Homo sapiens: one gene and its partner. The protein of the gene in region 2 purifies or fractionates together with the protein of the main gene of each other region. This does not show direct contact. Each region holds a gene or a part of one and is shown on either strand. Other genes may lie near its edges.

Region 1 (3,829 bases), on a different chromosome or scaffold from region 2:
CTTATTGTTGAGAATTCTGTCATTCATAATTCAAGCTGCTGTTGCAAGCTGGCTTGATTTTTTTTTTTTAGTTGATAGCCAATGTCTCTCAATTTCCCAGGTTTTTTTTCCTTAAAAAGTATTATTTGGGGGGACTGAGATGGAGAATGGGCTTAGTAAACATCAACACTGCTTTAGTTGTGGTTAACACATTAGCCAGATGTCTTCCTCTGCAAGGAAGAATTTTGCTACAAACCTCTCCTGCTATTCTGTGGATTTGATATTTTGCAAGGAAAATTGCATTCTTCCATGTCTACAACAGAAATGGTATGTTCCTTGGCATGACTTGGAAAATGGATAAATTGTTGCCTTTTTGCCTTTCTAGTATGAGAATTTGAATCTTCTATTCCTCAAACTGATTGTGATGTGGATCTGCCTCTTACCCAAGATAAAAAGCAAAATACGTTCCAATGACCAAAGATAACTGTGCCATGGGGGCTCTACTTTTCACATATTTGAAAGGAAATTATGTATAATACTAGACAATAAGTCACTTTTAGAGATAAAGTGCAAATTTGGGTCTCAGTTCTTTTTTTTTTTTTTTGAGACGGAGTCTAGCTCTGTCACCCGGACTGGAGTCCAGTAGCGCGATCTTGGCTCACTGCAACCTCCACCTCCCAGGTTCATGCCATTCTCCTGCCTCAGCCTCCTGAGTACCTGGGACTACAGGCGCCCGCCACCATGCCCAGTTAATTTTTTGTAATTTTTAGTAGAGACGGGGTTTCACCGTGTTAGCCAGGATGGTCTCAATCTCCTGACCTCATGATCCGCCCACCTCGGCCTCCCAAAGTGCTGGGATTACAGGCGTGAGCCATCTCGCTAGGCCAAGGGTCTCAGTTCTTAAGTTAATGCCTTTGTGTCCTAGAACAGAGTTCAGCTGAACCAACCTCTTCAGTCGATTCCAGCCTGTGAGGTTTCAGTTCTGAAATAAACAAGAGCTGAATATAGAATGGTATGGTAGACTTTGGAGACTTAGAAGGGGGTGATGGGAGGGGATGAGGGATAAAAAAACTGCATATTGGATACAATATATACTATTCTCGTGAGGTATAAACTAAAATCTCAGACTTCACCACTATACAATTCATTCATGTCACCAAAAACTATTTGTACCCCCCAAAGCTGTTAAAACTATATATATATATACTTTTTTTTTTGAGACGGAGTCTTGTTCTGTTGCCCAGGCTGGAGTGCAGTGGTGTGATCTCGGCTCACTGCAACCTCCACCTCCCAGGTTCAAGCGATTCTCCTGCCTCAGCCTCCCGGGACTACAGGCGCCCACCACCATGCCTGGCTGTTTTTTTGTATTTTTAGTAGAGACGGGGTTTCACAGTGTTAGCCAAGGCAGTCTCAATCTCCTGACCTTGTGATCCACCCACCTCGGCCTCCCAAAGTGCTGGGATTACAGGCGTGAGCCACCGCATCCGGCCTAAAATATATACTTTGAAAAAATAAAACAAAACAAGAGCTAAAGCTAAGAGGATGTACCTTGGATTTTATCATGTTTCCTGATGGGTGGATGGGTTTTCATTCTATTTTTCACTTATTCGTATAATTGAGCACCTCTCCCTCTCCCTCTCCTCCCTCTCCTCCTCCTCCTCCCTCTCCTCTCTCTCCTCTCTCTCTCTCTCTTTCTCTCTCTCTCTCTCTCTCAGAAAAAGCAGCTCTGGAGGAGGGGTGACTGCCCGAGTCAGGTGTTAGGAGACCCGAGCAGGGCTGGATTCTCATCCTATGCTGTGTGCTTTCTACGACTTAGAGCAAAGCTCAGTAAACTGTTTCTACAGACAGACAGATAGTAAATTTTTCAGTTTTATGGGCCATACAGTCTCTATCATAACTACAAAACTTTGACAGTGCAGCAGAGAATCAGCCAAAGGCAGTATGTGAAAAAATGAATGTGACCAAATGCCAATTAAAGCTTCATTCGTGAAGAGTAAAACTTAAAATGGATCACGAAACTTTGTTCTTTAGTTTTTTTCAACTATTTAAAAATGTAAAAATGGTTATTCTTTGTTCACAGGCTGTACACATTAGGCCACAGGCTGGACTCAGCCCGGGGCTCATAGCTTATAGACCATTGACTAGGGGACTTAAAGGACAGTTTTGACATAGTCTCTATTGTTGTCTTACACTCTCAACTCTGAGTTCACATCGTATCATCACTATACTTACCCTCTACTGCCTCTTTTTTAAATCTCATTTTCTATCATAAAAAGTAAGACATAGTAAAAAGAGTGAAATATCCTTCTCTTCCCACCCATATTTTACCCTATATTCTCTTTCAACAATCTAGTGGGTCTTCGTCATGCAATTAGTGCTGAAAAGCTCAGAACTTGAGATACAAATCTACTTCAGTCTCACAGTTTCATGATCTCCACTCCGGCTGCTCTGCCACAGTGAAATAGGACTGGATGCTCAATCTTAACTTCTGTCCCCAAACCAAGTGCTTAAGATATCACGTTTTACCTTTCTATAGATGCCAAAAATGGTTCCAACGGACACAAGGCAATCGATGTTGGAAGATCCATCAAGGGGATCAAAACAGACCACATATTTACCCTGAGCACAGAAAAAAGAAATACAACCTTAAAATGTTATAGCAAGATACACTAAAGGAGTATACATTAGGGGCTAAGAATGGGAATTTAGAAGAAAGTTCAAAAAATGTGGGTCTTATTTATTTGTACTGTCATGGAAGGCATGAGATGGCATACAGAATGCACAGATACACACACATACACACAAGACCATTAAACAGAGAAAATACCACTTAAGAGGTGCAGATGAAGGTAATGGAATACAGATAAGTCATGATTTCCTATATTGTTGATATAATCAAATCATAATTTTGCATTGAGTTTCCTGGCAGCCAAAGGAAAAAGAAGGTTAGTCACTCATTTTCCTTTATTTGTAAGGAAAAAAATAATTCCTTAGGTGAAGCAGAGACTTTGCTAGGGTTGAGATCTATAAGAAACTTCTCATGGAGGTCTTACAGATGCCCCTTGAGGTTGGGGTGCATAGAGTTTTCAAAAATATCCTGGCTGGGCACGGTGGCTCATGCCTAATCCTAGCACTTTGGGAGGCTAAGACAGGAGGATTGCTTGAGCCCAGGAGTTTGAGACCAGCCTGGGCAGCATAGAGAGACTCCTTCTGTAAAAAAAAAAAAAAAAAAAAAAAAAAAAAAAAAAATTCAATTAGCTGGGCATGATGCTGCACATCTGTAGTCCCAGCTACTCAGGAGGCTGAGACAGGAGGTATCACTTGAGCCAGGAGTTCGAGGCTGCAGTGAGCCATGACTGTGCACTCCAGTCTGGGTGACAGAATGAGGCCCTGTCTCTAAAAACAAAACTAAACAAAACAAATTTCTAGCGTAATTCCCAAAGTAGATAACTTTCAGTGGTAGTGGGAATACCGCAGATTCCTGTTTTGAGTGGGATTTTCAGTGGTGTGCAGGAGCTGGCTGGTATCGGCTCTCAGGAGCTAACGGTGCACATCTCTTCCCAACTCTGCCTTCAGTGATATCACATTGGTAGCTTAAAATCAACGATGGGAGAGTATTCACACCATTGACAGAGGCAAGTGGACATATCAGAGACTTGTTTGTTTGCTTTGAGACCCAGTTTACCAGCACATCACTGGGAGTTTTCCATCTCCAAATTAGCCACTTTACAATGTCGTTTTTAAATGTCTGTAGCAGATTAACATGATTCCCTGCCCTCTTGCTCTTCACAGACCACCCTCACTAATGCAGGAGGAACTGGAAACTGGAACACAGGAAGCTGCCTATCAT
Region 2 (3,047 bases):
ATGGCACCATGGCTCCTATGCCTTCCCCTTTTATGTGTCTGAAACACATTTTTTCCCTAAAGCCTCAAGCTCCTTCATACCTCTGTCCCCATTCACTCCTCTCCCCAGAACCTTACCCACGTTGAAGGGAAATGGGGAAGGAGAGAGGAAAGTTTACCATATTCTGTGACTATTTTATACCAAAATTATGCCATGCTTTCTAAGCAAAATTATGATATCCTTTATAAGATATCAGTTGTTTCTTCACTAATAAAAATAATTTTACACTGCTCATTCTAATATTTTGCTGGTCCAGCCACTTCCCTGGTAGTCATGACCCCACTCTGCCCAGCCAAGGTCAAAGTAGCAACCTCTGGCCTTGAAACAGAGCCAGGTCACTTGGCCCACATTGAGATGGAACCCATGGCCTTGCCTACGCATCTCTGATCTCCAGAAAACTTTTCTTCTAGAGATCCAGGACTGAGTGATTCAGGCAACCATTACATGATGAGAAATGTCTCTAAATCCATCTCATCCCCAAGTATGTTTTCCTAGGCTCCAACATGGCAATACCCTGCAGTCCTACAGCAATCAAGTTAGCTTTCATTTCACGTGAAATAGATGTGCGAGTATCTTTTTACATAACGGGGAATACCTCCTTATCATTAAAAATATTCCACTACCGGCTGGGCCCGGTGGCTCACGCCAGTAATCCCAGCACTTTGGGAGGCCGAGGCGGGCGGATCACGATGTCAGGAGATCGATACCACGGTGAAACCCTGTCTCTACTAAAACTACCAAAAAAAAAAAAAATTAGCGGGATGCGGTGGCGGGCATCTGTAGTCCCAGCTACTGGGAGGCTGAGGCAGGAGAATGGCGTGAACCCGGGAGGTGGAGCTTGCAGTGACCCGAGATCACGCCATTGCACTCCAGCCTGGGCGACAGAGCGAGACTCCGTCTCAAAAAAAAAAGAAAAAGAAATGAAAGGAAAAAAAAATATTCCACTGCCGTGATCAGTGTAGCGATAACACAGTAAACTTGCTCCTCACAGGACCACATGCAAAGGGCCAATGTGCCAGCAGATCTGAGCTGAGAATCATCCTGGTGGGCAAAACAGGAACTGGCAAAAGTGCTGCAGGGAACAGCATCCTCAGGAAGCAAGCATTTGAATCGAAGCTGGGTTCCCAGACCTTGACTAAGACTTGCAGCAAAAGTCAGGGAAGCTGGGGAAATAGAGAGATTGTCATTATTGACACACCAGATATGTTTTCTTGGAAGGACCACTGTGAAGCTCTGTACAAAGAGGTGCAGAGGTGCTACTTGCTGTCTGCACCAGGACCCCATGTGCTGCTCCTGGTGACTCAGCTGGGCCGCTATACCTCACAGGACCAGCAGGCTGCACAGAGGGTGAAGGAGATCTTTGGAGAGGATGCCATGGGACACACAATTGTCCTCTTTACCCACAAGGAAGACCTCAATGGTGGCTCCCTGATGGATTACATGCACGACTCAGATAACAAAGCCCTAAGCAAGCTGGTGGCAGCATGTGGTGGGCGAATCTGTGCCTTTAATAACCGTGCTGAAGGGAGCAATCAGGATGACCAAGTGAAGGAACTAATGGACTGTATTGAGGATCTGTTGATGGAGAAAAATGGTGATCACTATACCAATGGGTTGTACAGCCTAATACAGAGGTCTAAATGTGGACCTGTGGGATCAGATGAAAGAGTAAAGGAATTCAAACAGAGCCTTATAAAGTACATGGAAACTCAAAGAAGTTACACAGCCTTGGCTGAAGCAAACTGCCTAAAAGGAGCCTTAATCAAAACACAACTGTGTGTTTTATTTTGTATTCAGTTGTTTCTCAGATTGATAATTCTGTGGCTTTGCATACTGCACAGCATGTGCAATTTGTTTTGTTGCTTACTCTTTAGTATGTGCAATTTATTCTGCAGTTTGCTGTTTATTATACCCAAAAAGTTAATGATATTTTTGAGAACAGTTATTAGACTAGAACGCAAGACTCCTAGGTTATAGTTACAGATCCCAGTTATTATTTACTCACTATCATTTAGTGGGTGAATCACAGTAATTTCCCTGTAAAATGTGGTACCTGAAGTCATATTTGAGATTCTATGAAATGTTTAAATCTGAACATCACTCCAATTATTAATGAACCAAATCATACGATAAGTTACTGTTTGCATTGAAATATAATATCAAAGCCTTTTGAAATCTGTAAACATAAAATTCCTCTCATTTTCAAATATCTAAAGCCAGTTTTATGTTCCTAAAATCTCATTTTCTTCTTTCTAGTACTACTATTTCTACTGAATATAATGAAAATGGCAATAAAATAATATTACATAAACTGTAAAGTTCCTTTGATCATATGTTGTTAATTCTCTTCTATAGTTTTCTCCTTAGAAAATGGTAAGTGGACATGACTCATGTTAGCCAGATTTTAGCCCTGACGTCCTACAGATTTATCACTGAAACATAAGTAAAGACAAATGTCAGAAAAGATAGCAAATTGGACTGGATATTCTGAAGCATCATCTTGCTAGATGCAAATAGAGGCTACATTTATTAAAAGAAACAGAATTTTTATAATTGATGAGTTCACCAGAAAAATAAAGAAAATTCCAAAGGTAGAGCAAACAATATTTTTTTTTAAATGAGGAGCACAAACTGGAGTTGAGGCCCATGAGGAATACATGAACAAGGAAGGCAGAGGTGACCGATAGACAAATGCCGGTACCAATCCTAAGATGAAGAAATCAATCTTGGGCTGTCAGTAAAATTGGAGAGCTGATTTGGAGTGTTCTGTATTAATTTAGGACCTTCCAGGAGACTAAAGTTATCCAAAATTAGTTGAATTATTGACAGCCAGTAGAAGCAAACACAAATCTTCTCTAGAGGAAAACATCTCCAATTTACTTGAGTATTCAGATGGAATTAATTCAGTAAAGTGAACCCAAATCATGTCCCTATGAACAAGATCAAAAAGATTAAAAAACCCAACAGAAGTAGACTCAGAAACTTTAATATCACAGTACTAGTTACAG

The links.
Region 1: the proteins of GIMAP2 (region 2) and FBP1 purify together in Homo sapiens (affinity purification with mass spectrometry; one large-scale study listed by BioGRID and IntAct). This does not show direct contact.

What each region holds. Positions count from the first base shown.
Region 1 is NC_000009.12:94,615,263-94,619,091, forward strand, and holds part of FBP1 (fructose-1,6-bisphosphatase 1), read right to left. Parts: intron 2,599-3,829; coding exon 2,506-2,598; intron 1-2,505. UniProt on the Homo sapiens protein: Catalyzes the hydrolysis of fructose 1,6-bisphosphate to fructose 6-phosphate in the presence of divalent cations, acting as a rate-limiting enzyme in gluconeogenesis. Plays a role in regulating glucose sensing and insulin secretion of pancreatic beta-cells.
Region 2 is NC_000007.14:150,691,285-150,694,331, forward strand, and holds the end of GIMAP2 (GTPase IMAP family member 2), read left to right. Parts: intron 1-1,030; coding exon 1,031-2,016; 3' UTR 2,017-2,357; downstream 2,358-3,047. UniProt on the Homo sapiens protein: The heterodimer formed by GIMAP2 and GIMAP7 has GTPase activity. In contrast, GIMAP2 has no GTPase activity by itself.